2 separate regions of the Homo sapiens genome follow, and region 1 is linked to region 2. The links come from fine-mapping of genetic effects on gene expression. A gene starts in region 2. The other region holds a variant in brackets. All regions are shown on one strand. Distances are from middle to middle.

Region 1 (5,377 bases), 150 kb after region 2:
TCAAATAATATAGAGGGAGACAAAACGCACCTGTTTTCTTCCAGGTATGGCCTCTGTAGAACCTCCTGCTCTTATATGAGAAGACTGAGGTTTACAGTCTCTTTTGCAGGGCAGGAGTGTTGAAGCCTCCTGGAATTTAAAACTGCCAAAAGGGTTAAAGAAAAGCTGTGGTCTTGAGTCTATCTCATTGTTTTAAATGCTGGAAAAATGAAAATGCCTATGTTAAGCCTGTGTGTCTGACTTAGTGGAACCCTCAGCCCTCAGCCAAACTTGACTAGTGTTACACCTCAAGGATCCTTTAATCGGGTGCATAACAAGGATCTGGACTGGCTGCGCAGTGTGTCCACATAAGCTCCTAAGGCCTTCACTGCAGCTTTTCTGAAGAGTGGGGACCCAGGGCCATTCCTCCTGGGCCCACTGGTCATTGTCATCATCAAGTCTGTTCTCTTTAAATGTTGCTGTTATGAAAGGAGCTGGAGGGTAGCCAATCACTTGTACAACACTACTTCAGTCTTGTTTCACTTCTCAATATTTGCAAAGTGATAAGAGAGACAAGTCTGCCATCCTCATGTTCCTGTTCGTAGATGATTCTCAGGGGAGCTGGTATTTATGTGACATAAACAAGAGCATGCATTTGCAAGTGCATGCACACACATAATTCAAGAACCTTGCTATACATTGTATTTATTTTTAATGTTTATAATTAAGATAAATGTAGTGTTGCCACTATATAATAGCATAGCCCAGACTGACTACATTATCTTCATGATGTTATTAGACAACAAAGCTCCAGCCATTAAAGGAAAGTCATCTTTTAGTGACCAGAACATACTGTATCCCAGACCCCATGTGGCATGACCCAGCCTAACTTTCATGTGCAAAATCAGGGTTCTGTATCTTCCATTTGAGTGGCATTGAGGGAGAGAAAGGGTGATGCAGAGGCTTCCAAGTTCAGACCCTGCATGATGCAAGGCATGTTGTGGAGTTCTGCACATGAGGAAACTGAGGCCGTGGGAGTTTAAATATGGACTCAGCTAAAGAGGTTCAAAATCCTGGCCACCCTGGAGAGCTTCCCTAAGACCCTACAGGAGAAGGTAAATTCTTCTTCAGGACAACTTTGTGTCAGTTCCTGCAACCTTCAAGCCACAATCTATGTGATTCTTATCAGTTTTAAAGGAAAGTATTTTATACACAACTCCAGATCCCTGTTTTCTGATAAACCTCAAAATTGTATTTACAACACTGATCTATTTATTGCTGCTACCCATACATGGTGGCATAAACAACTTTTTCATTATGCTCATGATTTCTTTGGTTGGGAGTTCAAGAAGCAGCATGAGGATGGTTTGTCTCTGCACCATGATGTCTGGGACCTCAGCTAGGAAGACCCAAGGCTGGGGGGTGACCTGACAGCTAGGAGGAAACATCTGGAGGTGTCTTTACTCCCACATTTGGTCATCAGTGCTGGCTGTTTGCAGGGACTTTAAACAAGCCATCCATAGGAGGCCCATCTCATTGCCTTTCCATGTGGTTTCTGCACATAGGCTAATTTGAGCTTCCTCACAACACGGCAGCTGGCTTCCTCAAGCAAACGTCCTACATCAAGGTGGAGCACAAGATCTGGTTATGATCCAACCTTCAAAGCTAGGCAGCATCACTTGTACTGGACTGTACTGGTCAAGGCATTCATAGGAGGAGACATAGATGTCAAGGCTCTGGAAGATTATAAGGGATGGGAAAAATTGCAGCTGCTATTTTGGGACTATATAGTCTGCCACAGCTGTATTTCCAAGGATGAAAGAAAACTATACACATAACGTATTTGTATTAATAGGTTCATAGGAAAATGAATAATGACGGAACAATTGTTTTCCTAAATACTTTATTCAAATCAATATATCAAATTAACAAAATCTCTTTGACCTAAAATGCCTTCTGTCAGTTCTTATAAGTTCATGGCATTATTTCAGTAAAAGGTAAAAGGCAATTTGACTGAGATGCTATTATAACCTCTCAGGTGCCCGTTGGCATACAAAGCAATGATGATAAACACATTACCTGATGGAGATAAAAGGGCTAAGAATCTTGTGAATCTTCAGTGGGCAAAGTAAACAGCATTATGTTGATAATGCTAAATGATAGCATTAAATATTTTAAGAGTGTTAAAAAATAAGCTAAGTTAGCATATTCCATCAAATATCTGCAGCCTGATGTTTTGTATGTGTACAAGAAAGGAATAGAAACTGTCTCAACAAAAGAGAGCAACCTTAAAGCATTTGCTAATCTTCCACATGCATCTCACTTGTTATTCTAAAAACAAAGTGTTGGGAAAGCTTATCTATTTACTTTTGCTACTTA[A/C]GTAAATAACTTATCACATCATAAGTGCATTGCACTTTGAAGGTTTCAGTTGGTTGGCTTAGCACATGGTAAACACCAATTTGGCATTCTCTCTTGTTAAGTGGCCATTTGCAAAATGTATTATTTCAGATTTGCTGAAATACTGAATTTCTAAGTTTACACTCTGCTTATTCATATTTTTAAATAACTCTTTTGCCATTTGGTCCCAAACCCATGTGCTGATGTGTCTGCTGGGTCTCATTTCTTCCCCTGTATTAGTATCTGAAGCAGTGGCATCCTTTTTTTGGGGGAAAACTCTACCCTGGGAAGGGACAGAAAGATTTGAAAGTCATACCCTTTTCTGGAGTGCACCCCAGGCCAACTATGCACTCCAAAGAATGATACTTGATCAGATCAGAGAACATGTCCTTCCCTATGCCCTACCACCATGTGAATGAGCTTCCAGTATAATAACCATGAGTTGAGCTTGAAAAACCACAAGACATATACTCTGACTTAGGTGCCATATATAAGGGAATCCAAATGCCAAGAGAAGAGGCAAAAATAAGGACATTAGAAGTTTCTGACACCTAAATCTACACCAAACATTGAATACACTTCAACTCCTGGCCAAATTAACATCAATTCTCACTTGAAAGTCTTATTTAACTCAGTATCTTCTGCTCTATACCATATGTCTATATTTCAACATAATATTACAAGGCAGGCCAAAAGTCAAGAGAACACTGATGAGACAAAATAATCATCAGAACCAAACTCAAATATGACTCAGATGTTGGAATTATCAGACATGTAATTTAAAACAATTATGATCAATATGTGAAAGACGTTGATGGAAGAGGTAGACAACACATAAGAAAATGGATGTCAGCAGAAAGATGAAAAGAAATGCCAGTAATACAAAACAGACAAAGAAATGAATAATTTTTTATTGGGCTCATATGTAGATTTGACATGGCTGAAGAATCAGTGACCTTGAGGATAGGTGAAAGGAAATGACCCAAACTGAAACACAAAGAAAAAAAGGATGGAAAATAAAACAGAGCAGGACAGGAAATCCAGGAATGTGGAACAATACAAAATAGTGTAACACAGGGGTCTCCAACCTCCAGGCCACAGACCAGTACTGGTCCATGGCCTGTTAGAAACTGGGCCACACAGCAGGAGGTGAGTGGCTGGTGAGCAAGCATTACCACCTGAGCTCTGCCTCCTGTCAGATCACTGGTGGCATTAGATTCTCATAGGAATGCAAACCGTATTATGAACTGCACATGTGTGGAATCTAGGTTGCATGCTCCTTATGAGAATCTAATGCCTGATGACCTGAGATGGAACAGTTTCATCCCGAAACCATCCCCTCTGCACTGATCCGTGGAAAAATTGTTTTCCATGAAATTGGTCCCTGGTGCCAAAAAGGTTGGCAACCACTAGTGTAACATATGAAAATTGGAATACCAGAAGAAGAAACAAGAAATATTTTTTAAAATCATGGCCAAGAATATTCCAATATTAGTCATAGACACCAAGCCACTGTCTTAAGAATCTTAGAAAACATCAAGCAGAATTAGAACAAAAAACAAAAACAAACCAACAACAACCAAAAGTAACTGAGATATATCCTGTTTAAACCATAGAAAATTGAAACCAAAGAGAAAATCTTGAATACATCTGAAAAGAATGAGGACATTCTCTTTAGAGAAACAAGGATTAAAACTACTGCAGACTTCTCATCAGAAACTGTGCAACTCTGTAATCTGAGCTACTCGGGAGACTGAGACAGGAGAATTGCTTGAACATAGGAGTCGGAGGTTGCAGTGAGCTGAGATCATGCCCCTGCACTCCAGCTTGGGTGACAGAGCAAGACTCCGTCAAAAAAAAAAAAGAAAAGAAAAAAGAGACTGTGCAACTAAGAATGCAGTTGACTGTAATCTTTAAAGATCTGAAGAAACAAATAAAGAAAAAATACTGGCAAGTTAGAATTGCATATTCAGTAAGAATATCCCTCAAAAGTCAAGGATAAAATAGAAACTATCTCAGATAAACAGCTGATGGAATTCATTGCCAGCAGGTCTGAAGTCTATAAGAAATAGCAAGGAAATTCTTCAAACAGAAGGAAAATGTTACAGGTCAGAAATTTGGATCTACATAAAGAAAAAAAGTACAGCAAAAAAGAATAACTAGAAGTGAAATAAAATATTTTGTTTTTCTTACTCATAATTTATCTAAAAGATACTATCCATTAAAAGCAAAAATAGTGATGCTGGCTTTGGTGATTAGAGCATGTGTTCAAGTGAAAAACGAAAACAGCATCCCAAGAAATGAGAAGGGCATTGACAAATACTCTGTTGTGAGGTACCCGCACGACACATGGAGCAGTATGGTATTATTCGAGGGTAAATTTAGATTAGTTTAAGATGTATACTATGAACCCTGGGCACTAAACTATATATTAAAAAAGAAGTATAAATAATAAGTCAGTAGAGGAGATTAAATGGAATCATGTAAAATGTTCAGTTGAAACTAGAAGATTCTGAAAAAGAGGGGGAAAAAACCAGAACAAATCCAACAACCTTACAAAGATGGCAACCATTAATCTGACTGTATTAATTATCAGTTATATATGACATTTAAAAGACAGACTGTCAAACTGGAGTTTTAAAAATGAGACCCAACTGGCTGGGTGCGGTGGCTCACACCTGTAATCCCAGCACTTTGGGAGGCCAAGGCCGACGAATCACGAAGTCAGGAGATCAAGACCATCCTAGCTAACATGGTGAAACCCCATCTCTACTAAAAATGCAAAAAAATAGCTGAGTGTGGTGGTGGGTGCCTGTAGTCCCAGCTACTTGGGAGGCAGAAGAATGGCATGAACCCGGGAGGTGGAGCTTGCAATGAGCCGAGATCCTGCCACTGCAATCCAGCCCGGGTGACAGAATGAGACTCCATCTCAAAAAAAAAAAAAAAAAATGAGACCCAACAGAATGCTGTTTATAAGAAACCTACTTTAAATATAAAGATA
Region 2 (5,377 bases):
ACATCCTCTGAGAGATAAGCATTGTTGAGAAGGTTACCCCAGTTTCCAAGAGACTTGGCAATTTCTACTGTGCCCCATTGCCTAATATGTGACAGCTCCTCACTGACTTTCTTGAAAGTCTTTATTTCAATGCTATATCACAGCATACCAGATAATATTTCAAGCCACAACAAGGGAATCACAGGTAAGAGAAACTGCCCATCGTGTGCTGGGCAACTGAGCTTCCCACCAGGAGCCCTTAATGAGCTGCTGCATCTGCCAGGAGTGGGTGACATCTGTTTCTTTACATACACGTCCTGGCCCTGTGAGTTTCTTTTGAAATGAAGTGTAAGGCCCCTTTGAATTACAGAAAGATGTGTGTGTGTGTGTGTGTGTGTGTGTGTGTGTGTCATGGGGGAAGAGTCCACCTTCTGTTTCTTTCTTTTTTTTTTTTTTTTTTGAGACGGAGTCTCACTCTGTCGCCCAGGCTGGAATGCAGTGGCGCGATTAAATTCAAACAGCACCCAGGAGACAAAGGCGAGTCCTGGCTGCAGCCCAGGCAGGTGTTCTCTCGTCAAAACAAAATCTGCCTCAAAAGTCAATCCAGAGGCTGGGCAAGTGAAAGAGCAGTGACTTAGAGGCAGGGAACCCGAGCTTCAGGCTACTCCTGCACATTGGGTGGCTACACAATCTCAATTACCCTTTTTAAACTTCAATTTCTTCATTTGATAAATGGGATCAATGACTCTCCACCTCAAATGGGTCTAATAGTATCTGCTCAACCTAATGGCTTAGATGGGAAACTGCTTTATTCAGGAAAGGACTCCGGAAAGGTAAGCTGCTTTATTAAAGTGTGGTGGCATGTTCTTCCAAGTTGAGAAGTTCTGCTAGATGGGAGAAATGAACAGTGCCCGTTTCTGAGTGTTCCAGACCACAGCCTTGCAGCTCTGGGGACCTAAAGGAAGAAACATCAGGTGTGTCTCGCGGGGCTGCAGACATGAAGACGGGGATGGAATTCAGGTGATAGTACTGGTTCCACTCATCCGCGCCTCCTTCAAATGCCTCCTTCTGGCACTCTGCATTTCAGCATTCTCTTTGGGCTGCGGAGGCTCCCTAGAAGCCACGTCCCCTGAAAGGAATATAGGAAGGACCTCTTGTTCCTGGCACCACCTTTAACTCCTGCCCCTGCCCACCAGGACACCTGGGCAAGACGCAGCGCAATGGTGGGTTACCAGGCAGGAGGGAGGGCTCTAGGAAGGTTGGGAGCCATGGAACTCTGGAGCTTAACCTTCTCTGACCACCAGTGTACCAGCCTGCGGGTGGCAGGACTGGGGCCTCTGCCTAGTGTTGAAACGGGGGCGCACAGATGCTTTTCTAAATAACTTTTGACCCCCTTTCTGGTAAATCTTTTTTTCAGAGTTGATTCTCTATGAAATCTACACTGCAAACACCACCTCCTCCGCTCCTAGAACGCAGACTGTCTTACCACCGCCCTAGTTTCCTTCCAATTCCAACTGGGGCGGGCCCGCCATGGGCCAACAACAGGCTGGCTCAGGGCTGAGGGGGTCTCTGGAGTCTGAACTCCGCGCCCGCTTGCTCCTCCAGGGCTTAGCTGGTCAGGACTTGAACATTCGCCGGATCCATAAATTGGGTCATTTTTAACCTCAAAACCGAACCGCAGCCTGGGGAGGCCTTTAGGACCGAGGGGAGCCATCCCTTCCTCTAGTCGGGCAGCAAATTCCTGTCCTCCTAGTCCCCCGCAGCTATCCCCCGCCCCCAGCCTCTGTGGCCCTCACATTGTCAGACACTGGCCGCGGGCCACCATCTGGACGCGATCCCCCGCTAGGGCCTCCCTGGTCTGGGCCAAAGTTGGTGGCCACCTTCGCGCGGGCTGCGCCCTCCTTCTCTTCCCTGCCCTCCTCCCCCGGGGCCCGCGCCCGCTGCCTCCAGCACGCGCGTCGGCAGGCTCGGCAAGCGAAGAGGAGCGGCTCGCCCCAGGGCGCCCCTCGCCCAGCCTGCCGGCCAGGCGAGCGCGACGAGAGTCTCCCCGCACCCCTTCCTCTCCCGGGGGCCGAGAGGGTTGGGCTCCGCCCCGGCGCCGCAGCTCCCGACTCCCCGCCGCTCGGGCTGCCGCCGCTGCCCCGCGCCCGGCGCTCGGGGCAGCCGGGGGCGCAGGCGGAGAGCGCAGGGCGGGGAGAGGCGTGGGGAGCAGAGCGGCGCTGAGGGGAGGGCAGAGGAGGAGAGAGCCTGGCAGCGGAGGAGCAGAGGCGGGCGCCGCACCGCCCCGCACGCTCGCTCGCTCGGGAGAGTCGCGGGCGGCCGCTTGGGCGCACTTGCCGGGTCACCTTGTCCCGGAGGTAAGTCCAGACCTCCCGGCCGCGGGGGCGGGCGGAGGGGCCCGCAGTGGGCGGGGTCGCGGCAGGGGCCGCGAGCTGGCGGCGGGAGCTGGAGGCTGCCCTGCGCTGGCGGGTGTCCTAGTCCTGGCTCCGCCTCGGAGCGCGCAGACCCGGCGGCGGCGTGGCGCCCGCGGTAAGTCCGGGTGGTCGCCGCGACGAGACTTGGGAGACACGGGGTCGCAGGGCGGGAGGGGGAGCTGAGCCGGCAGAGAAAATGCCCAGGAAGGGGTCGATGCTGGCCTGGGCTGCACCTTGGTGCCTTGCCACCCCGGGAGACGCGAAGGGGCTGCTGTGCGAATTCGATGGGAGCTGGTGAGACCGAGAACTGAGAGCGTAGCGGAGCCAGGCTGCCCAGCAGGGCCATGAGGGCGCGCGGCGGGCCAAGGCTCTGCGGGTTCGGGCTGCCCCTCGGAGTGACCCGAAGGAGACCAGCCAGGGCTGGTGAGCCGGGCGGCCACGGAGCTGGGGACCTAGGTCTGTTTGGGAGTAGGAAGGGAAACAGACTAATTCTCCGAGCGGAGCGGCAGGCAAGGTGCAAGCGCGCTTGGGATGGGGAATCCCGACGGGCGACCGTGGCGGAAGCAGAGACTCCTGGAGCCTCTTTCCTCTAGCCAGGACAAGACCTGCCTTCAAAAGCTGTCTGGCCCCTGGCAGCCGCGACAGCCTGCAGCCCTGGGAGCCACAGCCCTGGCGCCGAGATGGGAGCGAGCACATACGCTTTTTTGGTTCCAATTTGAATCTCGCTTTTTCCTAGTCGTGATTTCTGCCTCTTCATGTGCACTCTCTGGGCAGTGAGGAGGAAGGAATGGCTCACTGGATGAGTTGGGCACTTTTCTTAGGGAAGGGGCTTTGTCCCTATGCGCTTTTTGCAAGACCCTACTAGAGTGGCTCTGGCAGCCGAGCTTTGAGGAGGCGGCCAGAGGGGCCGCTTGGCGTTTCTGAAAGACGAGAGGAAGGGGTCTTCTGGTAGTCCTGTTTTCCTTTGGGGGTTTCGTTGCACGCAGAGGCTTGGGCGCTTGGCACCCAGACTTCAGGTGCGCACAGTCCTCCTGCGACGTCAGATGCGCTGGCGCCGCGGCGCTCCTGGCTCGGACCGATGCCTGCGCCTTCCCTGGCCACGTCCTGGTGTTTAGTGCAGCAGACACCGGCCGAAGGCTTGGCTGATTGGGGGTGTCGAGGGGAGGGGGGCTGGGCGTTACACAGTGGCTCCGTTTTCTGGTTGGAATCAGTTGGTGAGGCGTGCGCGCGCGAGTCCGTGTATCTGTCCGTCTCCCTCCTACAGCCCAGCGTGTTTGGTCTGAGTCCAAAGAAGGAGGTGGTGTGTGTGCTGCGTAGACCTGCGCCTGTGGGGTGAGCAGCCTCATAGCCCCCAGAGCCGGCCAACTTCTCCGTGCTAGGCTGCGACCTCAAGGGCTGCCGCGTCGGGGATCGGAAGTGGTCTTCAAAGAGGGGTCTAGGTCGCGAAATCCTGGCAGCAGCCGAAGTGAAAAGGAGCTGCTAGGAGGCGGGCGGGGGGCAGTCTGATGTCCGTTCTGGCGCGGACAGGAAGAAACTGAAGTCGAATTTTTAGTTGAATTGCGTGCTCTGTGTTTGGCGGTGGTGTGGCCCGTTCTTTTGGAGGTCCACACCACAGGTATGAGGCCTGTGGGCCCTGAGGAAGCGCGATCCCCTTAATTCCTCCCTCCCCTCTCTCTCCACCGCCCGCCCCTTTGCAAGGAGCAAGCCTGACAGTAGCTGATCGGCGCCCTCTCTCACCCTGTCCCCATTTCCTGCCTGAAAACGGAATCCTCATAATCAAGAGGGCCTTGTTAAAAAAAAAAAAAAAAAGGAAAGAAAAGATGGAGAAACCTATTTTTAAACTTTTTTATTATGGAAAATTTCAGTTGTACACAGTGACAGACAGAGAATAGCACTGAAGCTTTGTGTACCCCCCACCCAGTCACCACCTGCAGTTACCTTTGGTAGAGTTTTGGAGGCCACAGAGTTTTGGAAGCCTTGTTTGATGAAGTATTTCAAAACTCATTCCAAAATGCTAAGTATTGGATAGTAGGTTAATTAGCTCCATTCAGTCATGACACATTGTATACGCATATCACAGCATCATTTTGTACCCCATAAACATACACAATTATAATTTGTTAATATCTGATAAAATAAACCAATTCAGTAAAAATACAAAATCACTTTGATGTAAACTTCAAAAAAATAAAAAAACCATTCCAAACTCACTTCACCTCTAAACACATCCCTCTGTATCTCCAGCTGATGACATTTCATTTTATGTTCACCTATCAGAAATGTCAGTTTTTAATAACCCCATTAGAGTATAGGTGATATTAAAATAAAAATGAAGGCCCCCTCCATTCCCATTTTAGGGTAGAAAAGGAAAACCTGCCAACTTTACTTGAGGCGTACAGGGGTGAGATATTGAAGAAGGAAAGACAAGTCCGGATCCTGGGAAGACAGATATGTTAGCAATAGGAACAGACTCATTCTAATTCATGAAGGGCGTGAACACGATTCTGGTTGAGCCATGATAGGCAAGAGAATTTTTTTTGATAAAAACTTTAAAACTCAGTTCAAAAATTATAAGCAATTAATTTCTTCCACATTTAGCATTGAGATAAATTAAAAGTGCTCTACCAGACTTGAGTTATTTTTCTCATTAATTTTAAATCGTATTTTCTAGGGAGTTATTACTATTATCAGAGAATAGAAAGTTGTTTTCTTATGTAAGATTTCTATCTGAGGCACTAGTCGGTGCTATTCTGAGGTTCATGGAGAGTACTGAACATTTCATTGTCTAATTAGAAAATGTTTGGTCATCCTCCAGGTCACACCTGCTCTGCCCTCTGAAAAGGCTCTGTGCTTGCTGAGATGTGATATTCACTGTGACTTCTACTGTCTGGAGAGGCATGGCACGCAGGGAGGCACTGGAGGCAGTGGGAGGGGAGGCCCTCCCTCCACCAGCCCCCTCCCATTCTGCACACCTCTGTGCTTTC

Alleles and levels. Positions count from the first base shown, and alleles are read on the strand shown. Sizes are in standard deviations (SD) of each study's normalised expression.
For the expression in pancreatic islets of the gene that starts at base 2,212 in region 2, C is the low allele of the variant in region 1 and A is the other (large effect, 1.0 SD a copy in PISA).

The links. PIP is the estimated chance that this variant, and not a neighbour inherited with it, causes the effect.
Region 1: its variant is fine-mapped to the expression of SYNDIG1 in pancreatic islets (PISA, PIP 0.95).

Annotation. Positions count from the first base shown.
Region 1 is chr20:24,618,949-24,624,325 of GRCh38, forward strand. The region is part of intron 3 of SYNDIG1 (synapse differentiation inducing 1); the gene reads left to right. Among named protein-coding and RNA genes, the nearest start is that of SYNDIG1, 150 kb to the left of the region's middle. The variant A/C (reference allele first, on the strand shown) is at 2,359.
Region 2 is chr20:24,467,418-24,472,794 of GRCh38, forward strand. SYNDIG1 (synapse differentiation inducing 1) reads left to right here and starts at 2,212. Exons shown (of 4, transcript NM_024893.3): 1 at 2,212-2,336.